4 separate regions of the Homo sapiens genome follow, and regions 1, 2 and 4 are each linked to region 3. The links come from fine-mapping of genetic effects on gene expression. A gene starts in region 3. Each other region holds a variant in brackets. All regions are shown on one strand. Distances are between the middles of the regions.

Region 1 (8,156 bases), 200 kb after region 3:
TCAAGCGATCTGCCTGCCTCGCACAGTGCTGGGATTACAGGCGTGAGCCACTGCGCCCAGCCAGAGTGTTTTTGTCTGAAGCTTCTTGCCACACAGAATACAGTGAAAGAATCCAACTATGGTAATTCAAGAGTCTTCTCAGAATTTAGGCTCAGAACTGAGACTGAAGTATTGGCAGAGGACCTAAGAGACAAAGAGAACCTTGTCATATACATGGATTCTGAAAAAATGTCATGGCTTCTGACAAACTAATCTAGCATATGCCAACCTAAGGGCCCTGGGCATCTATTTTCAAACTTATCCCTTGGGGTACCACCACCAGCTTGCCTGGGATTACCTGATCAGGTAGTTTAGAGAAGATAATAATTATAATAATTGAGACAGTCATGATAGTAGTACTTACTCTTCCTGCAAAATGATTAGTATGATAGTTCTGCTGCCCATACTTAGGGAAATGATACTTTCAGACACGGAAAGGATGATGATATGAAATTGGGACCTTGTTCTGATGGAAATGCTTCGAGTTTTAAATAGCTTCAAACTTTAAGAGTTTCAATACAACAGAAGCTCTAAAAATCCAGGGTCTTTGAGTAGTCTTCACATCTCTCTGCCCAATTCCAGAGATGCACTGAATTTGAGCCTTTGAGGAAGAGGGTAATCTGTTCTTTATATTTTTCTGACTTTTAAAATCAATCTTATACAATGGGTAATCATCATTTTACAATTTATACAACTTATAGTAATAAAAACGTTTGTTTAAAAAAAGTCTTGCAAAGTATTTTTGAATGTTTTAAAACATTGTTTACTTTAGTATATTTTGTGTGAACTAGAATCACTGAACCTAAATAGCACATAGAAGGAAGGGAGAGGGGAGTTGGAAGACATTTTTTCCTAAAAGGGCAATGGGTAGTAAATTGCCCAGATTCTGGAACCTTCTGTCTCAGTCCAATTCCTGACTAGACCATTTAAAAGTTGCATGAATCTTGGATGAGTTACTTAACTTTACTCTGCCTCAGTTTCATTGTCTGCAAAATGGAGACCTCATGTAATGTTATGAGAATTAAATGATTTAATATATATTAAATGCTAAGGAAAGCTTGGGCAGATAGTGAACATGACTTAAGTCTTAGCCATCATAATTATTACCCCTCTCAGAATCATTCTTTAGAATAATTCAGCCTTTACTTTATTGTACTTATTTATTTTAAACTACTTTTATATTTATCAAAGTTATACATAACCTGGTTAAAAGTCAAATTGTATTTAAAGAGTAATAATGAATAATAACAGTCTCCATGTTCACAACGAATCTGTGATCTTGCTGTCCAGAGGCAGTTACTTCCAATCCATTCTTTTAGCTGGTTATTCTGGTTTTTAGTTCCTGGGTTCTAAATAATAAGTATAAATGGTTATTTCTTGATTTATCAGTTTTAGACATTATCTATCTACATGTATTATAGCAGTCGAGTTGAGCTTTTGTGCACTTCCTATCCCATTTCTCTGATTCTACCAGTGCAATGAGGTTCCATCAAATTTATGGTTAAATCAGATTTGGCATTTACTTTATTATGGTTATATATGTATTGTTCACTTCTAAACCAAGTGGTGTGCTATAATTACATTTTGCTTTAGAAATTTTTGTTTTTATTGGAGATAATAATTATTTTTTAAAAATTTACTAAAATTTATTTAATTCTCCACCACACTCATGATTGCTGAGGTCTATCCAACACCTTCCATTTTGCCTTCAAATGGTCAAATATTCTTGATAATTGATCAATCCCATTGTGCTTCGAAGACAACTGCCCCTGAGCCATTTATCCTTCTAGTCCAGTCTGTACTTACTGCTACCATAGTCCTACTCCCCAGTTTCCTCCTGGATTTTCCTTGCACCTGTTCTGTGTCCTGCATCCTCATCTTATTTTACTCCCTTATTTTTCTGGAGCACATCCTCTAGAAGCTTATTAAGAAAAGGTACATTAGAGGAAATATTCCAGACTCCTTGTATATTTGAAGATATCTTTATTCTCATACTTGATTGATAATTTAGCTGGTAATGGAATTCCAGGTACATCCATAACTTCCCTCAGAATGTTGAAGTTAGCATTGGTTCAGTGTCTCCTGGCTTCCTGTGTTGCCGTAGAGCATTCTGATATATTTCCAATTTCATTTCTTTTCCATGTGATTGTTTTGTTCTAAGTGCTTTTAGTATCTTCTTTTTTAAATGGCTGTCATACTTCAGTTTGGATCTTTGTTTATTCATTTATTATGCTGAGCACTTTGTGGTTACTTTCAATCCAGAGACTCATATTATTTTGTTCTGAGAAGTTTTCTATTATTTCTCTGACAATGTCCTCTCTTTGTTTTCTTTATTCTTTTCTCAGAACTACTATTAGTTGTTCGTCAGATTTCTTGAATTGATTCTTCACATTTCTCATGTTTATTCTTCAACTTTTCTTCTCTTTGTATTTTCTGGCCTTTGTGGGCTATTTCCTCAAATTTATCTGTCATTCCCTTTACTGAGCACTGGAAATTAATGCTTTATTTTTTGAATGAATAATGTATGCTTTTGGTACAAAATTCAAAATTACTAATGAGAATGTAGATACAAGTTAGCCTTCTTCTGACTCTTGCTCCTTAAATATCCAATTCATCTACTTGGTGGGGATAAATATTCACAGATGGGACAGCACAGAGGGGAACAGAGGTTTAGGGCTAACAAGCGGAAGTATTTTATGGAAGTTCGCACACTGAATGATGCAAGTCCCGGTTTTCTTTCTCCATCTTGTTCCTGGAAAGCAATCAACCAGGCATATATTCTCCTAGATAGGAAATGGTTGGATTACTTGGCTGGAGAATATAACCTTGGCTGTCAATATCATTGGGTCTTTTCTCCTGGGTTGGTAAGATTCCTCAAAGTAGAATATTTTAATATCTTGCTTGGAGGGCATAAGCCTACTGCTAACATTTTGAGAAAAAGAGCAAGCATGGGAGTGAGTGTTGTCTCTATTTAGTATGTCAATTTCTACTTAATTTTTCTGTTTCTATTATTGTACTACCATCTTCAACTATCCTTGGTCACTAAGTTCAGAGACTCTGTTTTACCTCCTTTAGAGAATGTTAAGCCTTTAGTGTTCTGCTGGGGTGGAGGAGGGAAAGTCATCTGGTTAAGTTGAGTAAGGGAAAGGATCTATTGTTTTAATTGCCTTTCTATGCTTGAAATTGCATAATTTCTCTTGATTTGTTTTCTTGTTTACTGACACTTTCCTTTGTTATCTCCTTCCTACTCTTCTACCTAGTAAATATTTTATTTCAGATATTATACTGCTCAGTTCTAGAATTTTTCTTATGTTTCTATATCTTTTCTAAGATTCCCTATCTTTTCATTCATTATAAGAATATTATCTTTTGCATCATTGTGCACAGTTATAATAGCTCCCATAAAATCCTTGTTTGCTACTTCAAACATCTGGGTCATCTCAAGGTCAATTTCTGTTAATTATCTTTTCACCTGAGAATGAGTTGCATTTTCCTGTTACTTCATATATGGAATAATTTTGGATTGTATTCTGGGTGTTGTGAATGTTATGTTGTGGACAATCTGGGAGAGAGTTGTTGTTGAATTTATTTATTTTAATAGGCAATTGCTTTGGTTTGATTCAAGCTAAAAACTCTGATTTTTGGTGATAGTTCAGATCTCCTTGTAGTTCCTGCATATTTAGCTGATATGTGTGCAGTTTGCCCTGTGCATGTGTAGCTAGGGAGTAGCTCAGAATTTACACACTTAATTTGTGGCTCCCCTTCTTTGGCCCCTCCTTTCCAATATTACCCCTTTATTTCCCCTGTGGTTGTGGCTATAGTGGCCCTGAACTCTTTTCTCTGGTTCTTCAGACCAGAAAGACTGCAGATTTTCTATTGGAGTTTTAGCAATGCCACCTGGCCACCTTTCCTAGGTCCAAGAAATAGGAAGAAAAGGGAAAATTACTCTGCTACCTTGTGCCATTCCCTTATTCCAAATGGCAACTCCCCTCCAGAATCTACCTGCTTTTGTTCACTCTGCAGTGTTTTCGGATTTTTTTTAAAAAGTTGTTCAAAGTTTATTATTATTATTTGAGGCAGAGAGGTCCAGTGGGAGTTTATTCTATTAGAGGTGAACTCCTAACAGCTTGTCAACAACCTTTTAAATAACTCTATTTACCATTAACTCTGCTTCCAAAGTAACCTGGTACCACTAATTTCTGAGCTTTTTCAAGGTTCTGTGGTATAAATGACAATAGTCATGGTTAGTATATTCACCTCTAAAAATTATTTCAGTAAGCATAAATAACATGTAAGCAAAGTGGGAGGTAATGAAAGATTGTGTCATACAACATTCTAAATCAG[A/G]CAGAATTCCTGCTGCTCTTCCATTTGGTCTCAAAATGGCATTGGCTAGGTTTTTTTCAGCCTCATGTTGGCCAAAATAAGAGCCTTTCTTTAAACCAGTGTTCTAAAACATTCATCATCTCAACTGTTTTGGATTATCAGTTGGCTGCAAACCAGGGGGTCACCCATGGCAGCATGGTACAGACCATGTCTGTAGGTTTTCTTTTCTTTTGATTCCAATGAGAACATCAGAGAAACAAAGAGCACTTCTTTGCAAGATGGACTCTTCTAGAGAAGATGGTCGGCCAATGGACTGTGGAGACAAAGGTCAGAATTGTGGTCCCTTGGGGCATCTCATCTTGTTAGGATCATCATGGTCTCCTCAGGCTGAAGTTCATGAGCCATGAGTCCCCAGCACCTGATTCCCTCAGCACCTGATTGTTCATGAGGTTAGAGCAGTTAATACTGAGACTGTTGCAATTCTGTGAGTAAATAAGGTTTTTATTTCTGTGTTGGAATTTCTTGTTTTGTGCACCTGGTTTGGATATTTGGTTTATTTGCATAAGAATGCACACGTGTAGCTTGGGATTCAACTCAGAGAGGGACTTTTAGAAAAGTCTAAAGTCAGAGGGGACTATTGTCTATGTGAGTACACTTTTTAAAGCATCCCTTTCATTAGCTATCAAGGCACAAGCTCTGTTTCCTAAGGAAAGTCACCCCAAACAGCTATTATATAAACTACAAAAGAAGTAGATGTGGACATAATTAAGCACATTTTTATTTCCAATTGAAATACAGTTGGAAACTCTTTAGGGCTCAAGTCAAAACTTTTGGCTTTGTTCCCTGGTCCAGAATTCAAAACAATTTCTCTCTCTGGAATTGTAATCGTTTTTTCTGAAGATTATTGAATTCAAATAGCTTGATATGGAACTAATCTAGTCTAGTTGAATTTTTGGAATTCTTTAAATTCTCAAAAAGGTTGAATTTATCTGGTGCTCAGTAGATGTGAACGAGCAACATCCTAAGGTGTTCTCTGAGCTCAGAACACCCAAATTGTTTTCTTCCTGTAGAATTGTTGTTAAGCCCTGAGGTGCAAAATTTTCCCTCCCTCCCTCCCTCCCCTTCTTTTTCTTTCTTTCTTTCTTTTCTTTCTTTCTCTCTCTTTCTTTCTTTCTTTCTTTCTTTCTTTCTTTCTTTCTTTCTTTTCTTTTCTTTGCTTTTTCTTTTCTTCCTTTTTTTTTTCTTAAATTATCTCATAGTTTTTCGTACTTTCAGATGGGTAAATTGAAACATTGGAAGGGTAAGCATTGGACTTGTGTCTTGGTCACAAACGCAGGTTTTGGGGGACAAAGGCAGAAGTAAAAGACAGATCTCCTTCTCCAATTCAAGGCTGTGTGAATTCTACTACTGAGCCCTCTATGAAACATTAACTCAGTGGTTCATCCCCTGGGGGACCTGGGACCGTAGGAGGTCTTTAAAGGAAGCAAGAGAGATTTTTAAATAATTTTCATTTTTTCAAGAAGTTCAACAGACTTTGCACATTTCCCAAAATAAAAGTGCATGAATTAACCAGAATGTCATGGTATTTTTGCTTTTGATTAGAGTTAAATTAATTCAGTTTGATAACATTGAATATCATCCTGATCTGAAGCTTTGATTACAGTTATATATGCCTTAAATGATTAAAATGTGAAAATAGGTTAATTATGTCTTAATAAATTCAGTTTATTTGATACATAGAAATTTATAAAACCTGAAACTAATCAGAACAAAATATGACACATTTTCACAACTCCCTATGAGTATCTTAAACAAGTAGAATGCTAAGGCATATGAAACTCTAAAATGTATCTATTTCAAGATTTTTCTGGAAGATTTTATATATTTTTTTCTGTCTAGCTGCCTTAACATGAACAGTATAAAGCCAAATTATTCTCTCTTATACATTTAACATTAATTATGACAACAGTTCATTGACCAATGTCCACCAATGATGGACATCAGCTGTTTAGGATTAATTATGGGTGTATTGACTTTTCTAATCCCCACTTAAGGGGTTGAATATCTGTAGATGCTGATCAGACATTTAAAAGAGGGTAACAACACCAGTATTATATTGAGAAACAATGAGAAAAGCTAAGTTTAATTCATCATTCTGCTAAAAGTCAATCAATAACATTTTTCATGTGTTAACAACAGTTAATAAAGACAGTTAAGCCAGTTTGGAAAGTATAAATGGAAGAATAACTTCCTGATTTCATATGACTCATTAGGCTCATCAAAAGACTTTTCTTCGAGGAAGCACTCAACTTGCTTCTTTGAGCTAATGTTACAGGTTGTGGTTTTCATAATCATGCCGTGATCGCTGTGGCTTTGGGCGTCACTTTTCTGACGCACCTGGCTCCATCTGTTTTAGATACACAGTCCAGAGTTCACATTGCTGAAGGGCAATGACTGAGATCATTGTTTCCTCAAGGTGTGCCCTTTAAAGGCTAAATCGATGGCGAGATGGGATAGGCTCTAGGGCTGAAGAACACATGATGTGTTAAGTTTAGGTCACATTCTTTCCTAGATATCTGGACACCAGATATGATTATGGAGTATTTCTTTGTCCTAAGGCAAGGTCGTGCATGACCTCCACTGCTGTCTGCATGCAGGTGCCCATGAACTTGGAGGCAACACCAGAATGTTCTAAGTATTATCACTCACAGGAATTCATATTTGTATGATTGCTGAATGTCTGTTGGAGCATATTACATAAAATACTGCCGGTGACGGAAGCTGCTTAATCTACTCAGAGTCCTCATGTGCAAAGGAAGGGTAAGGCAGATGGTCCCTAAGGACTCCCCTACCCCCAGGCTCTGGCCAGCTTTCTGTAACTCTAAGCTTCCTTGAATAGAAAGCCTCAGAATAGAGATAGCCTGGTACGACACTCTTGACCAAGTTAATACCAGACAGGTGGCAATTTACATGTGTGAGAGGCTCTCATTTGAAAGTGGGAAAGCTAGGTGAACACAAAACCTATGCCTCCAAGTATAGATTTTAACCTTAAAAACAGAAGTTTCACACACGGAAGACTATTCTTTTCCTTTCATTGTTTTGTGCCAGTGTAGAAAATGACCAATAATGACACTTGTAAATATCTTCACTGGAATCTTGTATCCCTGGGACTTAAAGGGTTAACAGTTAGAAGACTTTAATTGTATAATTTTCTGGGTTCCCAGACATGCCTTTAAAGGTCTTCACTTCCTCTTTGTCTTTCATTCTAAGCTCTCTCTCCTGCACAAGACCTGCAGGGCCTGGCATCTGTGAGCACTCCAATAAGTATTTATTACTAAATTCAGTTGTCATTCATTTAGAATGTACTCGGTGCCAGCCCCTGTTTTTCTAAGCCTGTCTTATTTAACCTTTACCATTACCTCATGATTTACTCTTATCCTTATTTTACAGATGAAGAAATGCAGATTTTTGGGAGGCTGAGTAATTGGCCTGCAGTTATATAAATGTGGAAAAGCAGGCTTCAGACTAAAGCACGTTTGACTCGAGAGCTTGTGTTGTTAATCACTTTGCCATCTTGCCCCCCTTCCTTTTGTTGTATAGATGAATAATATGTGCTCTTTCACTTAATGAAAAGTGTGGTTTTGGCAGATCTCCTCTGCTTGAACACATCTTCTGTGGTGGAGAGGAAGGGGCTTGGAGGTAGGAATTCTCTCACCAGCTTCACCAGGAAAATAGAAATATAGAACCTAGTACCTAGTATACGACCTAGAAAGAGCAGATTTCACTCACCAGGA
Region 2 (8,156 bases), 120 kb after region 3:
TGAGGTGGGAGGTTTGCTTGAGCCCAGGAGTTTGAGACCAGCCTGGGCAACATAGCAAGACCCTGTCTCTATAAAAATAAAATAAAATAAAATAAAATAAAATAAAATAAAATAAAATAATTAGCCATTCATGATGGTGAGCACCTGTAGTCCCAGCTACTTGTGAGGCTAAGGTGTGAGGATCGATTGAGCCCAAGATGTTGAGACTGAAATGAGCCATGATCGTGTCACTGCACTCCAGCCTAGGCAACACAGCAAGACCCTGCCTCAAAAAAAAAAAAAAATAGTTAAACCCACTCATGAGGGTGGAGCCTTAGTGTCTTAATCACCTCTTAAAGGCTCCATCTCCCAATACAATTACATTGGCAATGTATTTCAACATGAGTTTTGGAGGGGGATAAACAGTCAAACCATGGCACCCAGTCTCAGGTATTTTGTTATAGAAGTACATATGGACTAAGACACCTTTGATCCAGCAATTTTACTTCAGGAAATTTATTTTATAGAAATAAATTATACACATCTCCAAGGATAACTGTACAAAAGATATGTATTGCAGCATTCCGTGTAATAACAAAAAACTCAAAATAACTTAAATGTCTATTAATAAAAGATAGGTTAAATAAATATGGTTCATATATAGAATGGGATAGCCATGCAGCTATTAAAAAATATAATAAGGAGACTCTGTAGATACTGACATGGAGAGCTGTCCAAGACAGAGTTTGATTGAAAACAGTAGGATGGGCTGGGTGCGGTGGCTCACGCCTGTAATCTCAGCACTTTGGGAGGCCGATGCAGGCGGATCACCTGATGTCAGCAGTTCCAGACCTGCCTGGCTAACATGGTAAAATCCCGTCTGTACTAAAAATACAAAAATTAGCCAGGTGTGGTGGTGTGCGCCTGTAGTCCCAGCTACTCAGGAGGCTGAGGCAGGAGAATTGCTTGAACCTGGGAGGCGGAGGTTTCAGTGAGCCGAGATTGTGCCACTGTACTCCAGCCTGGGTGACAGAGCCAGATTCTGTTTCAAAAAAAAAAAAAAAAAAAAAAACAAGAAAAAGAAAAAAAGGAAAGAAAAAAGAAAACAGTAGGATGTCCACTTTATGTGTTTAGTGTGACTACATTTTTTTGATGTGTTGGTGGGGAGTACTTGTATATTCTTAGAAAATAAAAACACACATCCCAATCTCTTAACAGTGTCTACCTTAGGGGTCTGAATTGTCTGCATTTGGGTGGGGTTATTGGAAAATATTGGACTTTTATTTTATTTTATTTTTTTATTTATTTTTGAGACGGAGTCTCGCTCTCTCACCCGGGCTGGAGTGCAGTGGCATGATCTTGGCTCACTGCAACCTCTGCCTCCCAGGTTCAAGCGATTCTCCTGCCTCAGCCTACCAAGTAGCTGGGACTACAGGAGCCTGCCACCATGACCAGCTAATTTTTGTATTTTTAATAGAGACAGGGTTTCACCATATTGGCCAGGCTTGTTCGAACTCCTGACCTGTGATCCGCCCAACTTGGCCTCCCAAAGTGCTGGGATTACAGGCGTGAGCCACTGTGCCTGGCCTTAATTTTAATTTTTATATATGTCTATACTCTTCAGTTTTTTTTAAAACAATAAACATTTATTTGTTACTATTATTTTTACTTATAAAAAATACTTTTTAGAGACAGTCTCATTCTGTCACCCAGGCTGGAGTGCAGTGATGTAATCATAGTTCACCGTAGCCACGAACTCCTGGGCTCAATGATCTTCCCACCTCAGCCTCCCGAGGAGCTGGGACCACAGGTGCGTGCTACTATGCCAAGCAGCATTTATTTTTTATTTTTTGGCACATACACAGTCCCCTCAATCCTCAGAGGAGGAAGAGATAGCCTTGGCCTCTGCTCCCCTGCTTTCTCATCATAGAACGTAAGACAGTGTCAGGGCTGAGTCAATGGAAAGGAAATGTGTTAAATCGAAAACATTAAGGTGACATCACCTTGTTGAAAGCCCTCAGGGACATCTTTGACATCACTGACAGACAGGTCCATTCCAGAGTGCATGGGATTTGATTTGTAAACTAGAGGTTTGATGGGTCTGAGTTCACAGGTAGGCAAAAATGCTGCTCCTCTGAATGAGAAAACACTGAAAACAGCACCCAGCCCACGCATCACCCAGTTTTAAATATCTCTTGGTGGGATCATTTCTGAGCCCCACTATCTTGTGGCAAACCACGTTTTCCATGGTGCCCAACAAGAGTTTACACACCTGCTTGTTTTCTATGATTTACTTCTTCTATGGCTGTATTTGTGCAAACCATACACAGTGGTTGACAGAGAGATGAAGGTACTCGCCTTTCTATGAATGGTTGAGAAACTGTCTACAAACCCTTTCCTGGGTGGGTAAACTCGATGTTGCCTGACCTCACAAATGTTAAGAAAAATAAGATTACATCACAGTACTATCCAGGCCCCAATTATGCTGGATCTTTCCACCCTGTCAACTGTAGAACCCCAAGAGCCTTTCAAGGTTAGTCTTCTCCTTCCTGTAGAATGCCTGGGAGTTCCCTGGAGGTATCTTTAATGTAGACAATGATCTTTGGCAGCCTCTTGTCCCACCACTCTGTGTTGGCCTCTGGGGTATATGTCTCTTGGGATTCTCTTCCCACTCTGGCCAGAACCACAGCTTGCTGCTTGTAGGGCTGCTCTCCCCAGGCACCTGTGGCCTCCTCAGTGGGGCTGCCTCTCACACCACGGATGCAGACATAATCACAATTTTTTTCCCTAGTGTGCTTCTAACTAGATGGAACTCAGTGGGTAATAGAGGATACTATGGTATGGAATGCCACCTAACTCAACAAGCTATATGCATCTGAATCTCTGCTGTGGGAAGCTGAGACCCTCCACCATACTTGTGAAGCACTGAAAGGACCCTCCAGTGGCAATGTGAAAGACTATTGGGTAAGACAAGTGAGGAAAAAAGCAATAATGAAAGAAAAGGAATATAGCTGAAGACTAAGAGGGGCAGCAGGTAAACTGCTAAGAGAATGATGAAAGAATTTTAAGGCTAGTGGGTCAAAGATTTCACTGTTTCAGTCTTCAACCGGAGGCTGAATGAGTATCTCTGAGGGATTCCATGGCGAGAGGTTTTACAGAGTAAATCTTTGATATTTGGGAAAAATACTTACTAGAGTATTTACTAGTACTTACTAGATACTTTGGAAATCCCCACACATACAGATACCGTTATAACAGAATTTAATGTTAGAAATTTGGGTCAGAAGAAAAATATTAGGGCCCCAGCAAAGTATGTGAGTTGGGCATTTAGCAAGGCCAACTCTTTAGCCAACTGACCTGCTCCTTCACCACTGGCTCAAAACTTGGATTCAAACTTGTACTCCCTCATAATTACAAAAGAGTATGTCATGGATTTTGAGATCATGTGTCAACAGCTGCAACTGAGAACATCATGCAGCAGAGTGCTAAGGATCTATTATACAGTGCAAGGAGTTGTGTTGGGCCATGTCTAAGAGCTCTCCCAATTTGGGATTATCACAATGAAGTGTGACATTATTTTCCATCATACTTCATTGACCTAAGCAATTTACCCACAAAGGCTAGATCTTCAGTTCACACCCTGAACAAGTCCTGTCAGCCTGAGAATCCCTCTAGATGAGCCTGTTTCTTTAAAACAGTTCTCAGCCTTCTCCTGGGCTTCAGCCAGGCCTTGATGGCCAGGGATGGATTCTGTATTTTTCCGTGCACATAGAACTTCTTTGTTCCTTCTTTCTGACTTATTTTCCTCCCAAATAAAGGGCAGAGGAAAGGAGATTATCGAAGAAAGTCTGGCAAATGGGATGCAAGTTATCCAGTTGTACTATTCAGTGGGAAAATCTGGCTGTAAGCCTAGGAACTTAAAATGATGTTTCTAGATTTGAAAATATAATCTCAAAATGCTTCCATTTTGTGAAGGGTCAGTCCCCAGCCTCCATGCATAAAAGATAGACGGGAAGGACTAGGCAGGTGGAGAGTCATGATCGGGGGTACAGGGAAGAGTGAGGGCTTTTAGAAAGTGGTGTGGCTATAGTTCAGAGTCCTCACCCACCTGGGGTCGGGAGCTGTGGGTTTTCCTGTAGTGCTGCCTCTGAGCACTGTAATCTTGGGCACATCACTTTGTTTCTTTTCACAACTGAGTATCCTCAATGTAAAGATAAGAAATTAGGCTGGGCATGGTGGCTCATGCCTATAATCCCGGCACTTTGGGAGGCCGAGGCGGGTGGATCACCTGAGGTTGGGAGTTCGAGACCAGCTTGACCAACGTGGAGAAACCCCGTCAGTACTGAAAATACAAAAAATTAGTCAGAC[A/T]TGGTGGCACATCCCACTGTAATCCCAGCTACTCGGGAGGCTGAGGCAGGAGAATTGCTTGAACCCGGGAGGTGGAGGAGAGCCAAGATTGTGCCATTGCACTCCAGCCTGGGCAACAAGAGCAAGAATTTGTCCCCCCAAAAAGAAAAAGAGACATTAGACCAGATGTTCTAGAAGATTCCTTCCATCTCTATCAGCCATGGATCTATGATTGTGATTACCACCCCTTCTAAGGAGCAGATTATAGAATGATGGATTTAAGACAAACTTACTAGTTGGTAGAGGTGAATAAATACCATTGAATTTATCAATGAATAATTGTTCCAAATGTAATCAGCTATTTGTCTTTTCTTATAAAACAATGTACACTGGATTTTTGGTTTTAACATTAATAAGAATGTAAAAAATATTTTAATTCACTTTTCAAAGTGCTTTCACTGGTATAATTTTTTAAGGTACTCCCGTCACAAAGAGGGAGTTAAATATGTGGGCCTAGGCTGGGCGTGGTGGCTCACGCCTGTAATCCCAGCACTTTGGGAGGCCTAGGCAGGCAGATCATGAGGTCAGGTGATTGAGACCATTCTGGCTAACACAGTGAAACCCCGTCTCTATTAAAAAATACAAAAAATTAGTGGGGCGTGGTGGCGAGTGCCTGTAGTCCCAGCTACTCGGGAGGCTGAGGCAGGAGAATGGCATGAACCTGGGAGGTGGAGCTTGCAGTGAGCCGAGATTGTGCCACTGTACTCCAGCCTGGGTGACAGAGTGAGACTCCGTCTCAAAAAAATAAAATAAAATAAAAAACGTGTGCCTAAAAGGCTGAACTCAGTCCGGAATTTTCACCACAGTCTCTTATTTTGGCAATAGAGAGATGCAAGAAGTATTCTTTCTGGGATGACATATTCTTTGCTGGCAGCAGGCAGGTGCTGTGGTGTGTCCCTGGCCATCTTGGTCCCACAGGCCAGCTTTGTGGGATGAGAGATGGACCTTGGTGACTTCTTCCTCTAAGACATTGCAGACCTACTTCACTGCTTCTCATTTCTAGACAAAAGCATTATCTCGTAGCAGCACCTGGAAGCCACTACAGTGGGTTGGCCTTTGGTCCCTTTTGAGAGTAACAATTTTTTGTGGAAAATGTATTTTAGGAAACCTTGTGTCTGGGTTAGGTGGAATCATTAGCAATGATTCCATCACATACTACATTCTCTTCTCTGCCAATGGCTTTTTGATCAATGGCCTCTGTATGACAGTTTATGAGATATTGAATAGGCTACATGGGCCCATTCATTGTGTGGATAGCTTGCTCCTGCAGCAAACTGCAGGCCCTACATCTAGCATACAGGGCAGACCAAGCACTCCCTTGGGCATTCTGAAGGTTAGAGGCCACCTTATACTCTGCCTGAGACAGTGGCTTTCTTTCTTGTGATAATAATGTTTTTATTCCACTGAATCCAGGTACGTGGAGAAATTTCAGAATAATCAACTTATTTGTTTTTGTTTTTCTTATAAAAGTGTTGCACAGACTAAATGCACTAATTTAGGAAGATTGCATAGATCAAATCTTGGTAGAAGTAAGCACTCACATTTTAACTATTATTATTGTTATCATAGATTGTTTGGCACCAATGAGCTGCAAGTTGCAACGCAACTCAATCTGAAGAGAAGGCCCAGATACCCTCTAGTCTAACCTCTCACTTTGCAAATGAGTGAACTGAGGTCCAGGAAGGAGGCAAGGCTTGCCCAAGGTCACAGAATTCACTGGTAACATAAATATAATTAAAAATTCGTGAAAAATATTTACTTAGATATGTATCTTTGAAGCCAGCCAGCGTTTTCCAGCATTTTTTGAGACAATGAAGTGGCAGGATAATCCTGGGTCCCCTAGAGAAATTTTGGAAAGGTTCTCCTATATAATAAAGTCACTTAAAAAGGAAGAATTCATTGCATTTTATCCAACTGACCTGTGAGGTCCCTCCACGGAACTCCAAGGAGCCCCCACTTATTCTGGCCCTGGGTTCCTTCAGAGGTGGCTAGGCTAGAGCTGTGTCTTGGGATTCCGTACAACTGCCACCGCTGGGAGAGATGGAAGTTCTCCATGTTTATGGGAAGCCGAATTCCTCCAATAATAGAAGAGAAAGAAACAAAGTTTGTTGGAATTTTTCATGAATTCTTCCTTTTTAAGTGACTTTATTTTATAGAAGGCATTTGTATTTAGTTTGCTAGGACTGCTGCAGCAAAGAACCATAGACTAAGTGACTTAAACGACAGAAACACATTGCCTCACAGTTTTGGAGGCTGGAAGTCCAAGATCAAGATGTCGGCAGGGTTGGTTCTTTCTGAGGGCAGTGAGGGAGAATCTCTTCCAGACCCCTCCCCTGCCTTGTTGTGTTTTCTGGCCACATTTGATGTTCCTTTGGTTATAGAAGTAATACCCCAATCTCTGACTTCATCTTCATGTAGTGTTTTCCCTGTATGTGTGTCTGTCTCCAAATTTCTCCCTTTTATAAGAACATTTGTCATGTTTGATTAGGGCCCCCTCTAATGACCACATTTTAACTTGATTATCTCTTTAAAGATGCTATCTTCAAATAAGATCACATTCTGAGGTACTGTGGGTTAGGACGGCAACATATGAATTTCTGGAGAACATGACTCAACCCCATAACAGCATTGAATAATTTAGACAAGTGAGGATTGTGTCTGCTTCATTTACCATCGCATGCCAAGCGTCTAGCACAAAGCACGTCACATATTGGGCTCTCAAATATTTGTTGAATTAATAAACACATAGTTATCCTTATCTAATTATACTTGGTGTTTTTCAGATTGGCTTTTCATGAGGTGTTAATTTTCCCTCAAAGATGCAGATTATCCTTGGTGATGTGGGAATTGGAAGACTGTGCACTCAGTAATCCCCCATCCTCAGGGTAGCTAATTTCATGTCAGCATCTTCTCACACAAGCACTTTAAATTGCACTATTTCCAAGTGGTAAAACTGACTGACAATGACTTTTGTCTGTCCTGTCTGGAGCCTGGTGGTGGGTACATTGAGCAATGAATTGATCTGAAAGCAGTGGCGGTAGGAAGAAGAAAAGCTCCTGAATAACAGAGTTGGCAAATGCCTTCCCTGGAAATCCTATTCTGCCTTTGACTTCTGATGATACCAGGGTAGGATGACACAGGAACATCTGCATGGTGCTGGCCATGGGAATGCTGCCTGGGCGGATGGGGAAGTTCTCACAAACGTCTTTGCAACTGGGGAAAAGCCAGTTCTTACCTATCTGTGTCCCATCTGCAGGAATAGTAATGCCTTACAAAATTAAACCTGGACTCAGAGGCCCAAGTAGTAAATCCTGTGTCAGTCCTTTATATTTCCTATTAAAGTTGTCCATGCACATAAACAACAGATGGAAGAGATTAACAAGACGTATTATATTCAAGTACAATAAATTGGTCTGAAAGGTGGATGTCATGCTCTTATTGGGCAGAGTGTAAGTTCGGCTCAAATGCAAGGCTTTATTGTAGTGTGCTATGAGACTGCCTGGGTATTTGGGGAAAGAGGACCCAAGTCAGGAACCGAACCCATTTTAGACACCTGTAGAGCCTTTCCAAAAAATAAGAGCATCCAGATCATGCCCCTTGAGCTGTGTTAAGAACAGATGACTATAATAAAAGCAAAAGAGCCCATGACACAGGATCTGGTCACTTGTTTATTTCCACGTATTTTGCTCTGTTATGTTTTGAAGTGGGTGAACTGGGCTGTGCGAGTTTGCCTATGTGGCCATCTGGGCAAAAACTGGAGAACAGATTTC
Region 3 (8,156 bases):
GACTCCACGTGGGGCTGGAACCCAGTCCCAGCCCTGCTGTGTTCTAGCTGGTCCCGGGTTTGGACGCCAGCGAAGGAAGGCGCGCCCGCGCTCTCCATCGGGGGGACTCGAGGGCAGCGCCGTGCGGGGAACATCCCGGCCAGCCCCGGCCATTCGAGGGGACTTGCGTCCCAGAGGAATTGCCCTCATCTCTCCCACCAGCGCCGACAAGCTCAAACAATGGCGCGGACGCCCACCCTGGTGGCCTAACCAGGACCTGGCCCCGCTCAGCCGCCAGGCCTTCCGGGACAAGCCCCTTCCTGGCACTTTCTCTTGGAGCGCTTTGGGGAGAAGGGAGGGGGACTGGGCTCATTTGGAGGAGCAAAAGACAGCCCTCGCGGAAAAAGAAAGAAAAATCAGCAAAATCGCCTTAGCAGTTCAACCAAAGGTCAACAGCAGCGTTTCCCCAGCAGCTGACAGGTCAAATGGGCAGGAAACAACTGCGGGGAACAAAGCCCCCCGCTGTCCGGCAGGGGCGAACCCGGCTCCTCCGCACTGAACAGTTTTGTTGTGCTTTTTGGAGGGGAGAGGTTTCCGCCCCCTTTCCAGCTCCCTTCCTCCCGGGTGGACAGGTCGGAAGAGGAGCGGAAAGGAAAGGAAGGGAGGGAGGCGGCGAAGGCGCCTGCGGGGGGGAGGAGCGGCTCTTTGATGGGTGTGGGGGGGTCTGAACTGCCTACCGGGCTCGGAAGCGCAGACCCTACCCGCGCGGAAGAATGCGCGGAATGCGGCGGCGGGAGGCGGAGGCGCAGCGCGGCGGGGGGCGCCCGGACCCCACGCGCCCTGCCCGCTCCCTAGCCCGAGGGCCGCGGACCCACCCTGCCCTGCAGGTGTGGCGGGCGCCAGGTCCCTCCAGGGACTCGGACAGCACGCGATTTTTCCAGGATTTCCGACTACCAAATGTGACAAGACAGTCTCGCCGCCGAGAGTTTCGCCAGGGCTCGCTAAAATCCGGCACGCGCCGCCATCAGATAGTCGAAAATCCGGGCTGAACAAAAGGTGATCATTCTCCGCTGCCCGGATTTGCAGGCGCTAGAGGACCGGTTCCGCCCGGCGTCCCCCAGATACCCAGTCCTTCAGCCTCCCGCTCCCAGAGCCTGGATCTAGCCCGGGACGGGGATTGGCCACCTTCCAAGCTGAGCTTGGAGTTGGGCAGCGGGAACGCAGATACAGATCGCTCTACACAGTGTGTGCAACCCAATCTCCCTTTCTGCATTTGCCAGGGTCTTGTTTTCAGTGAAACTGGCAAGGCCAATTGTACCTCGGCGCCCACCCCTCTTCACCTTTTCTCCACCTCTGGGATTCTCCCGGTCCGGCTCAGTGTAGGGCCCCAGCACGCCAAACCAACAGGCCTATCTTGTCCCCACGCGCCCCGTGGTACTTGGAAACTGTTCCCGGGACTCAAGATGGACCGCGCAGAGGAGTCGCTTCATCCTCGAGGCTAGGACCGTTAATGTCAATAAACGGGGCCTCGCTAGGACGGTGCGGAATTGCAGGTGACCGGAGAAACCCGTCCGCACTTTCCCTGAGGACTTGAACCTCGCACTTGCACAGAAACCTTGCAAACCCCTACACACCAACACACACAAAGGGGCGCGCGGGGATCCCCGCAACCACGAATCACGCCGGGGACTCCTTCCCGTGCCAATAAGGCGCAGGCCGCCAAGACCCCCTCCATCTCCCCGACTCCAGCTAGCGCCCGGAGCCCTCGTTTACCTTTGAGCAGGCAGATGTCGGTGCGCTCGGCGTTGCGGCGCAGCGCCTGCACCACCAGCGACACGGTGCTGTCCTCGCGGAGGCTCTCGGCGCGCGGGCTGCGCTCGTCGTAGACGATGACCGCCGAGTAGAGGCCGGAGCGCAAGCGGGCGCGTACCTCCTCCTCGGCGGGCAGGATCTGCTCCAGGCTCACGGAGCCCTTAGCCCGCCGCCGCACGATGGTGTTACAGCGCACGTTGACCGAACCTAGGATGTAGCCCGCGCTGTGCGCCAGGAACGGTCTGCAGTCCAGCAGCAGGCACTTGCCGCCGCTCGGCAGCCCCAGGGTGCCGTGGCTGCCGCTGCCGCCCGCGCCGCCGCCATTCTCGTCCCGGTTCATCAGCCTTTTGAGCACACTGCAGTCCATCTCCCGCAGCTCCTCCATCGTCACCATGGTCGCCGGGAACCGAGGCGGCTGGGCGCGCGAGGAAGAGAAGAGAACCCGGGCCGCCTAGGCTGCAGAAAGGGGCGGGCGAGAGCTAAGAAGGGACGCCTGCAGAAGTGGCCGCAAACTTGGTCCTCAAGGGCTCCCGCGGGAGAGCCTCTTCTTCCCTGTCCCCTTCCTCCCGCAGCCTCGCGGTCACATAGCAGTCGGAGCGGCCTCGGGCGCCCAGCCGGGCGGCGCGCAGAGCGGAGGGGGAGGCGCCGGTGGAGGAGAGTGTGTTTACGAGAGAGGACCGCGGACTCTTTTCGGCGACGGCCTCCCGTGTATTTTTGCCGGTCGCGCGGCTCCTGTCGCCACTGGCGCCAGCGCTGCCCTGCCTACGCTCCTCCGGCGCTCAGCGCACTGCCCCAGCCAGAGTTTTCTCCTCGGCTTAGAGGTTTATTAATGCTCCTCCGCGCTCCCGGGGGAGGGGGCGCTAGGTACTACCCCGCCAGGCCCCGCCCCGTTCCATTCCGGGCCCCGCGCCGTCCCCCGCCCCCCGCGCTGTCCCCCGCCCCCCGCGCTGACTCCCCGCCCCCTCCGGGCCCCTCCTCCCACCCCCTCCCCGGAGCTTGAATGGAGCGCGGCCGCTGGCTCCCGGTCACGGGAACTCGACGTCACAAAGAGCGGAGTAAACAGGGCGCCGGGTGCTCGCCATCAGGCCCATTCATAAAACCGAGGCCGAGAGGAAGAGGGAGGCGGCCTCCGACCCGCCGCCAGCGGCGGGCAGCGCCCGGACTTTGTGAATGGAGCGCGCGGCGCCTTTCGCCGTCTACCCGCGGGCCCAGCCTGCGCCGCGCCTCCAGCCCGACACCGGCACCTGTGCCGCCGCTGCACCCCGCCGCTAGGCGGGCGGCGCCAAAGGAAATAGCCGGCTGAGGAGGCCAGGGCTCGGGTTTGAGCTTTCATCCCTTGGCACCTTCGCGCTTCCCCGCGTGACAGCCCCGTAGGTTTTTCCCGGTTACCCAAGTGGAGAGGGGACCGGAGCGCTGCTGCCCACCCAGCGGGGCCTGACACCTCCTAGCCCCAGACTCCCCGTGCGCTTTCGGCCCGGCCAGTCCTTTCTGAATATGCGATTCCTGAGACGTTAGCGTATGCATTAGCGTGATCGATTTTCATCTAAAGCCATTAAATCAGTTTTATAGCTTCCCCAAGAACGTGGGCAACCCCCTGCTTGGAAGATGAAAGAGAAAGTCCTCCCGCCCGAAGCCCAGGATCGGAGTGAGGTGTGGGGTTTGTTGCTTTACTACCCAAAGGGAGGCATTAATTGCCGGAATGGTGTTCCGAGGGAGGAGAGCAGGCTGCGCTCCTGTCCACGCTTCCTAAAAGATGTTTATTTAACCCTGGTCGGGGGAAAAACAAGGTTTTCGGGTTTGGGAAACGTCTTCACCCTATCTTGCATAGTTGTGAATTATCCTTTCAGGAAATGACAGGGTCCACATTTGTTGCGGAGCTGGACCCTGGAAAATGTACCCGCAAAGAATGACCTTTTGAAAGGACTTCAGCAGCTCTGGGTCCGATTCATGTTTCTGGGCATCCCTTTTTCCTGGTCACGTAGCAGCCCTCCCCATCCCCATTTCTCTTTTGCATTTAATTTCCCAGAGGCGGCTTTTGGCTGGGGGTTTGTGCACGCACGCGGTGGGGACCGTGCAGAAGCCAAAAATCATTCGCCCGACATCTTGCCAAGTCTTGTTAGTGAGAATTAATCACAGAGCAAGGGAGTTACAGGACTCGCTCGCAGTTTCGGAGGCTGCAGAGTAGCGTATTCCATTCCGGGGCGCGCGTGGAAGCCCGACCCAGGCAGCGAGGGCACCGGTACCCGCCGGGTCTCTCCCGCCCAAGCTCACCCTCTCCCCATGCCTTTGTTCCGGGCGGAGCGGCTTTCCCGAGCTCTCACCTCCGGTCCCGGGGGCCATCCCTGCACTCCCCGACCGGAGCTCGGCGGAGCCTCCACTTCCGAGACCTTCGACTGGCCTCGTCCCCCACTGGGCCCCGAATGCCTCGACCCCCGGGCCCTACTCGGATGAGCTGTAGGGGCACCGCTTGGGCAAGGTGATATTTCCTTTTGCTCCGGGCTCCAAAATGGCTTACGATGGCACTGCACGGATCCTTTCTCTTTTTAAAATTTAGTATTTTATTCATCATGGATTTTTTGCATTTTTTTTTCTTTTAAAGAGGCATTGCATCAAGATATTTCTTTTGATTACTGACTTTTCGGCGCCCTTCTTAAATGTTGCGCTCAAGGCTTGTGCTCACCCTAGTCCAGGCCCTGGAAGGAGCCACAACTGTGGACTGACCGAGGCTGCCCGGTGGCAGGACCCTGGGCGTCGGGCACTCCGGGTGGGAGATCAGTGGTCAAAGCCGCACGGCGTGGCCTCCCTGTGGGGAGGGCAAAAGGTGTCTGAGTCCAGTTTCCCATTCTGCTGAATGGGACTGTGGGGGTCTATCTAATAACTCGCTTTCGATAAGGAGCAAGGAGCCCCAGGGGCCCCGACAGTCCAAGGCTGATTTTGCTTTCCCGGGTTGCTCTCCAGCAGCTCAGAAATCCGCCGCCTGCCAGGACCCAGGGCCGGAGCTCTCCCGGCGCAAGTAAACACTGATTCCTTTACAAAGGCTTTAACAAGACATTTCTGGGAAAAGCCTCTCAGGAGGCAGGTCCGGGCCAATTTCACGCGTGTCGCAGGAGCTGGGGAGACGTCCCTGGGGCGCACGGGTCGCGCTCTGGGCCAGCTTTTGTCTACCCTGTTCTGGGGTCGCCTTCCCCGCCGGACCCGCGCCTGGCGCTCACGTGGCCAGTAAATAACAGTCAAATCCAGGGGGAGGAAAATGCCCATAGAACAAAGAGGCTTGCTTTCTGCACCTGACAGTAATCGCTGGTGGAGAAGCCCTAAATCCCGCAGGCGATTCACACGGAAAGGGGTGTGGGAGGGCGCGTGTGAGTGTGTGTGTCCACGTGTGCGTGCCCGCGCCTACGCGGCTGTTCACTGGAAGGGAGTCACAGCTTGGGACTTAATGTGTTTAAGCCGAGAGCCACTTGAATTGCGAAAGCGAAGGCCTGATTTTTAAAAAAGACTAATTTTTAAAATCCACACCCCATTGCCAACTCAGGAATTGGCCTTCAGTTGTGTGAATTTCAGCAAAGGAGATTTAAGTTACCATATTGTATTTATCGGGATACTGTGTAAACACCCTAGATATATATTTTTTAATTGTATGTTTGTGAACCATTGGTCCACAGTTAAATGAGTACAACGCGAGGGCTACTCCATGCCGGCTATAGATAAAACCTGTCTCCAATTCGTCTGCAGTCTGTGGACGAAACATAACCATTTTAAACAGGAACCTTGTGAAACAGCTTGTCAATGAGCAGATCTTGGAGAAAACAAAGGCAATTTGGAGCAAGACACGGAATGTCATTTCAAAGTTAATTTAATTAACTAAGGCATATTTGTAGGAATTGGGATGGGATTGCCCAAGGAGAGGTCTTTTATTTATATTCAGCAGTAAACCTCGGGGTGAAAGAACTTTTAAAAATTCGCTGTGACAAGTAAATCCAGCTTCTCTTTCATCAGTCAGTCCTTAGACCGACCTTATTAGTCACTGTCAGGCTCCAGCAAAACACCTGCTCTTGTTTAGGAACATTTCTTTCCAATTAGGAAGTTGTATGATCGGGGAATCTAAAGCCCGGAGTAGAATCCCCAGAGAGAAGTACAGCTTCTATTCTAGTTTTGATGCCAACCTCTGACTCACTGCTCTGTCCCAAAGTGCCTGAATAAAACTTGCCTGAAAAATCATTAATGAATTAATTAAGGTGGTGATGGAAAGAAAAGTCCTGTGGCTTTTCCTTTCTTGAGCAAAGAGGCAGCCTTGCTATTACGTCGAACTGGAACAGGAATAATCCATTTTGCACAGATCTTGTTGGTTAGGCTTCTTAGATCAACTAATTAGGGAACTTGCCCCCTGGTAGTGGGAAGGCTCAAAAGAACTGGGAGACCCTCTCCTGCTCCTGAAAGCAGAGAAGCCTGTGGTCTACACAGCGTGTTCTTAGGCAACGTTTAGAAATGGAATTGAGAAATGCCTGTCCTTCCCTACGTACCTCTGCCCATCAAGTCAGGACTGAAAGCGAAGGAAAGTCTTCAAAGTTCACACTGAACCTAACCAAAAACTCTCAAAGACATAGCCTGAGGATTTCTTTTTTTAAGTCCTGACTTTGTTACAGATCTTTTTTGTTTTCTATGCTTGATACTCTAGCACTTATTAATGATTTAAAAGGCTATGTATCGGCCAGGCGAGGTGGCTCACGCTAGTAATCCCAGCACTTTGGAAGACCGAAGTGGGCAGATCACCTGAGGTCAGGAGTTTAAGACCAGCCTGGTCAACATGGTGAAACCCTGTCTCTTCTAAAAATACAAAATTAGCCAGCATGACGGGCGCGCACCCATAATCCCAGCTACACTGGAGGCTGAGGCAGGAGAATCGCTTGAACCCGGGAGGTAGAGGTTGCAGTGAGCTGAGATCCCCTCACTGCACTCCAGCCTGGGCGACAAGAGCAAAACTCCATCTCAAAATAAATAAATAAATACAAATAAAAAATAATAAAAGATTAAGTTTCTAACCCAGGGTCTCTGCAGAAAGGTTTTAATGCATTGCTTTATTTACTGCTTTATTTTAAAACTATTCAATCTAGGCTATGCCACCATCTAGCTTGGTGGCCTTGGGCAAGACAGTCTCCTTTGGCCTCACTTTCTTCACCTGCAAAATGAAGAGTTTGGGCAGGATGGTTTCTCAGGTCTGGTCTATTTCCGACCCTGTATGATTCTGAGCAGAAGAAGACTTCTCAGCTCCGAGTCCAAGTTTCATAGGTTTCCCATCTCGCCCTCTGAAGAGCCAAGCACACTATAATGCCATAAGATAAAGGACGATCTCTAGCTCCTCCTTGTCCCTGCTTTAGAATATAAACTCATGGACAGCAGAGCTCATAGTTTTTATTTATTTGTTTAGTCACGTGCTAACGTCCCAAGCATTTTGATAAAACGTCTTCAAAATTTCAGAAACAAATTTTGGAAAGAAACACTTCTCCAAACGGGATAAAAATGAACTCGGAGGCTGGGCATGGATGGTGGCTCATGCCTGTAATCCCCCAGCACTTTGGGAGGCTGGCGGATCACTTGAGGTCAGGAGTTGGAGACCAGCCTGACCAACATTAAAAATACAAAAATTAGTCAGGCATGATGGTGGGTGCCTGTAGTCCCAGCTACTCGTGAGGCTGAGGCAAAAGAATCCCTTGACCCGGAGAGGCAGAGGTTGCAGTGAGTCAAGATTGGGCCACTGCACTCCTGCCTGGACAGGGCGAGACAGCGAGACTCCATCTCAAAAGACAAACAAACAAAACAATACAAAACAAAACTAGGTTATTTGGGGTCACTCTAGCTGTGCAGATTCTCTTATTCATTCAACAAACGTGCTAGACTCAGCAAGAGGTGCGGGAAGTAGGGGGACAGATTTGTCCAAAACACTGTGCCTTCAAAAAGCTGACAGTCTCATTGGTCTAGTCAGGGTGTGATTGCCACTGTACATTGCCAGAAAGCAGGATCTAACAAAGTGTCATTAGAGAACAAACAGCATGCCAGGAAGATTCAGAAGAGAAAGGGATGGAGCCGTGTTGTGAGATTAGGGAAATGGAGGAAAAGGCCATCATGAATAAAGTGCATTTCATCTACTTAAATGTTATCCTTGAAATGTCCTTGAGTTCTCTTGTAGGTTTTTTTTTTTTTTAAACTGTTATCTCACCTCTGACATTCATTCTGCCCTTGTGCCTTGTATTCTTTTCCTTTCATTTGTTAGCATCTCTCTTCCCCAGTGGGTTTGCCTGCTAAAAATAGATGAGCAATTGGTGTGAAACTACAAGGGAGCTAAGATGATGCAAAAGCTCTGTAGAAAA
Region 4 (8,156 bases), 330 kb after region 3:
GCCCAGCCCAGAGCTCTAGAACAGGTGAGCACTTGAATCACCTGGAAGATCTGGGCTCCATCCCAAAAGATGCTGCTTCAGTTGCCTTGGGTTGAGCTAAAAAATTTGCATTTCTAACAAGTTCCCAGGAGATGTTTCTGCTGCCACCATCCTTTGAGTAATGCCATTCTATGTCCCCAGAGATCAAACTCAGAATATTCCAGAAAAGACCTTGAAAGGTTGTCCCGACTGGGGTAAATGTTAAGGAAAGATCCTCTGCTGGGAGGAAAAAAGATGCGCTCAACTTGTTTTCTCTGAAGGAGAGAGTAAGGAAGAGCTGGAGAGAGAGAGTCTACACCCTGCTGACCGCCCAAGGATACACAGTTAGTGCTTTTTTTTTTTTTCAGGGGTCTTCCAGGGACTATTAGGAATCTCTGTGAATTAGAAGCTGCATTAGTGGGTTCTTACACTGCTAATAAAGACATACCCAAAACTGGGTAATTTATAAAGAAAAAGAGCTTTAATGGACTCACAGTTCCACATGTCTGGGGAGGCCTCACAATCATGGTGGAAGGCAAAGGAGTAGGAAAGGCCTCTTACATGGTGGCAGGCAAGACAGTATGTGTAGGGGAACCGCCCTTTATAAAACCATCAGGTCTCGTGAGACTTATTCACTATCATGAGAACAGCATGGAAAAAGCCTGCCCTCATGATTCTATTACCTCCCACTGGGTCTCTCCCATGACATGTGGAGATTATGGGAGCTATAATTCAAGATGAGATTTGGGTGGGGACACAGCGAAACCATCAGCAGCCAAAACACATTTTTACTGTTACAACTACATTTCTTGCAGACACATTTTAACTCAAATAGTAATTTTCATTTCTTGGCATATCTACATGTCCCTGGGAGACCTTCAGGACATAGGTAATATGGTGTTGAGGTCAGAGAATTGGACTTAGACTCAAAAGACCAAGGAGTGGTCCTCAGCTCTACACTCCTCTGCATGTGAGGCTCCGGTTAAGACATTAACCCTTCAACACCAATTTTCTCACCTGGACAAGGAGAATAGTACCAGCTTCAACCATCAGACAGGAATGCTGTAGGGATCCAAGCAAGAATGTCTTTTCCCTTTCTCTTCTCTCCACCGCCATCCTTCCCTCTCTCTTTCCTTTGTCTTCTCCTGTCTCAGCCTTCCATTTCCTTCCCTGGAGTCAATGGGGTGTCAGCAGGGCAGCCATGTGAGAAGGTAGCCTCATGCAAAGTAATAGAGTCCCCCACCAGGAGACTCTCCTAGCAGTGGGGTGGTCTGGATCAGAGTGTCTGAAAAAGCCTGAGAAAGGTGAGGAGGAAACCCACATACAATGTAGGTTGGCTGTGGTCCCAACCACAGGAAATTGGCTACATAGAGGGAGATGGGTCAAATAAATATATTAAAGACAATGGGAGCCAGGCCTTCACTGTTGAAGAAGGGAATTACCAACATGGAAAGAGAGAAAATTAGAATAGATCCAGTAATGTTAAATTAGAGTTGTTTTTAGATAGACGTAGAAACAAATATAGATGTAAATGCAAGAGTGTGTGTGTGTGTGTGTGTGCTCTCCACCTCTGTCCACTGAGAGATCCTAGGATCAGCAACCCCCCAGTAGCACTGAGAACACTTAACACCCCATGTTGATGCCCAAATACCATGTTTCATTAAAGGAATTCAGTGCTCCTTGGATAAATAGATGATTCCATAGCTGGGGCAGAGAGAGTACAAGATGTGCCCTGCTGTACCAGAAATTAAGGGTGTGTTCTAAGAATGATGACAATACTGGCACCAGCTTGAAGAAACTCCACACTGACCATATTTGAGGCAATTTGACCATGAATAATGGTAGTAGCAAATTATAACCTATTGACTAAAAGAAGAAACCATGAGTCCAGAAAGATATGAATCCATGAATACTGGTTTGATGAGAAATGGGTAGTTACATTGTCTCAAATGTCCCCTCTACAAAATATTTAAGAATTATAAGGAGAAAAAGAGTAAGACTACACTGGAGAAGCCTGGCAGACACCACCCTAATCAACTTATCCTAATGAACAGCATCCGTAATGGAGTAAATTGAAATGACGTGCCATCAAATAGTGTGCACTGAGAAGATCACAGCATCACTGCTGGGATATCCTACTCAAAGATGCATCATGTGAATCTAACCACAAAGAAATAACCCTCTTCTCCAACAGTGAGAGCTTGTGAAAGAACATTCTGCAAAATAACTGATCTGAAATCTCCAGAAGTGTCAAGGTCATGAAGGAAAGTCCAAGGAGCTCTTCCAGACTGAAGAAGATTCAGGAGACATGATAATTAACTGCCATGTGTGATCCTGGACTACTGTATCTTTTCACTGTAAATGACATTATGGGAAGATTGGAAAACCTTGAACGAGGTCTGAGGATTAGATGGTGGTAATGTATCAATGTTAATTTCTAGACTTTGGTGGTTATATTGTGGTTATGTAGGAGAATATCCTTGTTTGTAGGAAATACTAGTGCTCAGGGTTGATGAGAAATCATGTTGACAACTTACTCATAAGTGGTCTGGGGAAAAAGATTCCTTGTTCTGTATTTGTAATTTATCTGTAAGTTTGAGATGCTTCCAAAAAAAGAAAAAAACCCAAACAATGATGCACATCTAGGTATCCTAAGAGATAGAAAACAATTTACAAAGGACAGATGGGATGACGTCATCCCCTGCTCTTCCATCTGCTGTTTGCTCTGTGTGAAGCCATCACCACACCCTTCCACTTCTACTTTCAGATTGTGTCTGTGCTCTGACTCCTTTATCCCTTTCAATATCATCCCTTGGTTTAGGTTCTCACAGTCACTCAACAAAGCCAAGACAACAGCCTCCAAGCTCTTCCTCCTGCCTTTAGTGTCATCTTCTCCTTCTGTCTCTTCCACCCTGCCCCCAACCACCTGGCCTTCTCCCCATACTGTTGGCCAAGTGACTTTTCCAAAACCCACATCTGGTCATGTCACTGTCCTGCTTAAAGTCCTTAAGCCTAGTCTCCCCAATGCCCATAATGAAGTCCCAGCTCCTTAAACATCTCATATTCTGGTAGTAGCCTGTCCTTCAGCTACTTCTTTTTTGTTGTTTATCTTTTTTTATTGATACAAATATGTGTACACATTTATGAGGGTACATATGTATTTTGTGAGATGCATAGTGTTTGCAATCTCCAAGTCATGGTATCTAGGATGTCCATCACCTTGAGAACTTATCTTTTTTTGCATGTGTTGGGGCCACTAAAAATCCTCTCTTCTAGCTATTTGAAATATACAATTCATTGTTGTTAACTGTAGTCACCCTACTCTAGTATTGAACATTAGAACTTTTTCCTTTTATATAACTGTATGTACCCATTAACCATTTTATCTTCATTCCTCACCCATCCACACACTATTCCCAGTGTCAAGTATCTATCATTTCACTCTCCACTTCAATGAGATCAACTTTTTTTAGCTCCCTCGCATATGAGTGAGAACACACAAAATTTGTCTTTCTGTGTCTGGCTTATTTCACTTAACATAATTTCCTCAATTTCCATTAATGTTTTTGCAAATGACAGGATTTCATTCTTTTTCATGGTTGAATAGTATTCCATTGTGTATATATACCACATTTTCCTTATCTTTTCATCCACTGAAGGACTCTCAGGTTGAATCCATATCTTGGCTACTGAGAATAATGCTGCAATGAATATGGAAGTACAGGTATCCATGATTTATTTTCCTTTGGCTAAATACTCTAGTGGATTGCAGGATCAAATGGTGGTTCTATTTGAAGTATTTTGAGAAGTCTCCATACTTTCTTCCATGATGGCTATACTAATTTACATTCCCATTAATAGTGTATAAAAGTTTTCTCTACATCCTTGCTAACATCTGTTATTTTCTGTCTTTTTATTTATAGCCCTTCTAACTGGGATAAGACAATATGTCACTGTGTTTTTGATTTCATTTTCCTGGTGATTAGTGATGTTGAGCATTTTTTCTTTTCTTTTCTTTTTTTTTTTTTTTTTTGAGATGGAGTCTCGCTCTGTTGCCCAGGCTGGAGTGCAGTGGCACGATCTCGGCTCACTGCAAACTCCGCCGCCTGGGTTCACACCATTCTCCTGCCTCAGCCTCCTGAGTAGCTGGGACTATAGGCGCCCGCCGCCACGCCCGGTAAATTTTTTGCATTTTTAGTAGAAACGGGGTTTCACCGTGTTAGCCAAGATGGTCTCGATCTCCTGACCTTGTGATCTGCCTGCCTCGGCCTCCCAAAGTGCCCAGCTGAGCACAGGCATGAGCCATCGTGCCCAGCTGAGCATGTTTTCATATACCTATTGGCCATTTGTATGTCTTCTTTTGAGAACTATCTATTCATATCTTTTGCCCACTTTTTAATGGGATTTTTTTTAACTGTTGAGTTGTTTGAATTCCTTG[C/T]ATATTCTGGATATTAGTCCCTTGTCAGATGAATAGTTTGCCAGCATTTTCTCACATTCTGCAGATTCCACTCTGTTGATTGTTTCATTTGCTGTGCAGAAGCCTTTTATTTTAACATAGTCCTTATTTTGTTTTGGTTTTGTTGCCTGTGCTTTTGTGGTCTAGCCATAAATCCTTTAGCTTCTATTTCTACAACCTCCTTTCCTGGTGGCTAGGGCAACACTGAACCACTCGCTTTCCCATAAGCCCACTGGTACCTTCCAGCTTCCATGCCTCAGTAATGCTATTTGCTCAGCTTTCTTCTTCCTGAAAGACTCCTGCTCATTCTTTCAGATTCAGCTCAGATATCATTTGCTCTCTGAAGTCCTCCCTGATCCCCACTGCCCTACCCCAGGCAAAGCGAACAACTCCTTTTTTCATGTTACAGTAACTCTTCGTAGAAATCTCTCTCCTAATAGCTATCATTGTAATGCCATTGTTTGCTTTCTTGCAGTTGACCCTCTCCAGATTTTGAGCTCTTTAAGGGCAGAGACTGTGTTCTAACATGGTTGAAACCAACACAGTGCCTGGCACCACGCTGTTATTCAATAAATGCCTGTTGAATGACTGAAATGATGATTTGGCTGTGCCACGCTGTTTGGCTTTTGGTGGCATTGATGTTGCCATTCCTCTCTCCTGCTGGATTAGAAAGGCCCTTCAGTAGCTGGAGGAAAACTTGATGAGTCTGAGACATGCATAGTTATAGTTAAATAAGAAGTTTTGCCCACCAATACTAAGGTATGCTTTCCTTTCTTTTCTGGTCAGTCCTGAAGCACTTAGAAATTGCATGCCCTTTTTATCTTTTCCCCATATTAAGAAAGATTCTGATAAATCTTTCTAATTCCTCACTCTCTATAGAATGGGGGAGGCTGTTTTACTGGAGTCCCAGGTGGGCTTCCAGAGTGTGGAAGAGTGGAATGGATGGTACAAGCTGGAGTGGTCACTATTTATCTCTATCAGTGGGGGATGCCAGGACTCGGAATGAGCAAAGGTAGAAGCTGCTTAGGAGGGCAAAGCCCAAAATGCTAATTGGAGAACCAGGTCCTGCATGAAACCTGGTGGAAGCCAGAGTCAGGCATCAGAGTCCAGTAGGCGCCTAGAGATTGGAGGGAGAGAGGGAGATGAGGCTGAGCATCATTAGGGCAGAGGGAGGTGGTATCATGAAGGGTTAGCCTCAGATGCTGCTATCATATGGCCCTGACATTTCATTTGAGAGCTAGCAGGGGTGCAGGGGGTGCAAGGGTGAGTTAGTGGATTCCTTCAGAGGGTCCAGAGTGAGTCGTGGCACTGAACCATGAGTGATCAGTAGCACTTCTTATATTATCACAAATACTTATTTTTCATTTGTGCTATGGCCTTTCTGCCTTTTGTGGTATTCCAGGTATCAGAGAGATACATCTATAGGGGAGAACCTAATGTTATTCTTGGACTAGTATAGTCATGTGTGCTTGGAACTGGATGGTAAAGCCCTGCCAAACCCTGTTGGGCCCTGCTAAACAAGGCAAAAATATATTGCCCAAGGCATCAAGTCTCAACCCCTGGGGAATCTCCAAATATTCCAAGTTAAACTAATTTTAAAGTTTTTCTAATAAAAATTATGCAATATATCTGTCTTTAGACTAGTCCAAAAGAAATTAGGGAATGAATCATCCCATTTAGAAAAAAAATTCATAATAGAATATTCTTTTATAAAGCAAGCTGCCCACATGTATTTAAAAAGAGTTGGGAGGTAGGAAAATTCTAACAAGTACACGAATGACTAGGAGCACATCTATAGAAGTCAATTCCACCATCCCACATGTCCGGGACAGATGAGCCACTCTCACGAAATCACACAGTTCAACAACTGAAGCTCACAGGGTTGGAAAAACATTGACTCCAAGCTTGTGATTCACAAGTACAATTTGAACATTTTTGTAAATCCTCATTTTTTTCATTAATTCAGTATTTACTGAGCATCCACTACTTAGCTTGATCCTGACGCTATAACTGGGAACTAGGTGAAAATAATCTTTACTGCTATCAAATGTTATTCTAGTAAAGAAGATAGACAATGTACAAATAGACAAGAAATTTTTAAAGTTGCAAATTATGATATGTGCTGTGAAGGCAGCAGCCAAGTAGCTCAGATTGTGTGTTGAGAGAACAGAGTGGGGAGAGAAGTTGGGAGGTACTGCTTTAGATGGAGAGGCTGGGAAGGCCTCTCTCAGAGGTAGCTTTGAGTTGAAACAAGCTCACTGTTAAAGAGCCAGATGATGCACAGGAGAATTCCAGGCAGCGTGAATATCATGCACACGGCCTTGGGTAGAAGGGAGACTTGGCCAGTTTAAAGGATGAAAGGAAACAGAAGAGAGTGTTCCTAGAACTTAGAGAGGGTGTCATGACATGTGGTTGAATTGACAGGCCGGAAGAAGATCATGCAGGACCTTGGAGTTCATTCTAAAGGAAATGGGGAGCCACTGAAGAGTTCAAAGCAAATGAGTGCTCTGATTCAATTTATATTTAACAAAGAGACTCTTGATGGCTGCTGAGTCAAGTTGGAAATGGGTAAACCATGTACATGCTGTACCAGTTGTCTAACAAGCAATAATAGTGTTCTGGATAAAGATGGAGTGAAGTGGATGGATGTGAGATATATTTTGGAAATAGAATTGACAAAGTCTGCTTTGGGTTAGATGTGAGCTTAAAGGAAAGAAAAAATTAAGAATGACTTCTGGGCTTCTAGATGCACAGCCAGCTGGTGCAATTTTCCAAGGTGGGGAAGATGTGCAGAAACACCGGCTTTGAAAATTGGTATACAGGGAAAATCAGGAACTCATATTGATGTTAGATGGCTGTGAGTCATAAACTGAGATGTCAGATAGACAGCTGGATAAGCGTGTCTGAGTTTAGAGGTGAGGTTAGCTCTGAAGAAGAAAATAAATGCATGTATATAACCACGTAGGGGGTGGTTGGCCTACCTCAGGGCCAATTCTCTTACCCTTCAAAGGTTTAGACATCTTCTCAAGACAAAATCTTGGAGGTGATATGTGTCTTTTGCATTATAATTACTGTGTTATTTGCACACAAAGTGTCTTACCTTAGAAAGTACACACCAGTTGTCAATTACTGAGTGTATAAGAAGTGTCAGGCACTCTACTTACATGATCTCATTTAATCTTCAAAATGTTAAGAGACATAGAGAGCAGATATAAGAACACCTAGAGGGCAGATAAGGAAATGGAAGCTCAGAGAGATCAAGTAGCCTCCCTACCGTCACACAGCTAGTGTTTGGCAAAACTGAGAGAGGAACCCAGGCCTCTTGACTCCAAGGTCAGGCTCCTGCCCTCATGGACTCTCCTCCTTTCAGTAACAGTCTCTTATCTACCCCTCATGGGAGAGCAATTTTTACAGCACTACGATAGTAGAGAGGCTATGTTAGCTGAAATTTGGGACAAGACACCAGACCATTCTGAGCTTCTATTTCTTCTACTATAAAATGATCTATCTACTATGCAGATTGCAGATAGGAAATATAGAAAATATATCAAATAAAGTATAATATAAATCCTATGCAATATATAGTTATATGCACACATAAATACATGTAAAATGGGATATTGTGCAGCCATTCAAGATGACTGCAAAATTATTTTACTTTTTAAGATTTTTAAATTGTAAG

Which allele goes with the higher level. Alleles are on the strand shown, and positions count from the first base shown. SD is a standard deviation of normalised expression in the study named. Not every link is listed here.
For the expression in cerebellar hemisphere of the gene that starts at base 2,591 in region 3, allele A in region 1 goes with a lower level than allele G (large effect, 0.83 SD a copy in GTEx).
For the expression in fibroblasts of the gene that starts at base 2,591 in region 3, T is the low allele of the variant in region 4 and C is the other (large effect, 0.92 SD a copy in GTEx).

The links. PIP is the estimated chance that this variant, and not a neighbour inherited with it, causes the effect.
Region 1: its variant is fine-mapped to the expression of DUSP4 in cerebellar hemisphere (GTEx, PIP 0.94).
Region 2: its variant is fine-mapped to the expression of DUSP4 in whole blood (INTERVAL, PIP above 0.99).
Region 4: its variant is fine-mapped to the expression of DUSP4 in fibroblasts (GTEx, PIP above 0.99).

What each region holds. Positions count from the first base shown.
Region 1 is chr8:29,548,781-29,556,936 of GRCh38, forward strand. No RefSeq gene overlaps it. Among named protein-coding and RNA genes, the nearest start is that of LINC02948, 9.4 kb to the right of the region's middle. RefSeq lists an enhancer at 6,379-7,578. The variant A/G (reference allele first, on the strand shown) is at 4,384.
Region 2 is chr8:29,470,507-29,478,662 of GRCh38, forward strand. No RefSeq gene overlaps it. Among named protein-coding and RNA genes, the nearest start is that of LINC02948, 88 kb to the right of the region's middle. The variant A/T (reference allele first, on the strand shown) is at 4,348.
Region 3 is chr8:29,348,094-29,356,249 of GRCh38, forward strand. It overlaps DUSP4 (dual specificity phosphatase 4), which reads right to left and starts at 2,591. Exons shown (of 4, transcript NM_001394.7): 1 at 1,753-2,591. The coding sequence starts at 2,185. It overlaps LOC124901924 (a long non-coding RNA gene), which reads left to right and starts at 2,881. Exons shown (of 2, transcript XR_007060876.1): 1 at 2,881-3,441. RefSeq lists silencers at 709-878, 2,449-2,768, 2,959-3,098, 7,288-7,586 and enhancers at 1,589-2,090, 1,619-1,768, 2,091-2,590, 3,289-3,358, 3,399-3,508.
Region 4 is chr8:29,678,378-29,686,533 of GRCh38, forward strand. No RefSeq gene overlaps it. Among named protein-coding and RNA genes, the nearest start is that of LINC00589, 66 kb to the right of the region's middle. RefSeq lists an enhancer at 2,898-2,947. The variant C/T (reference allele first, on the strand shown) is at 4,457.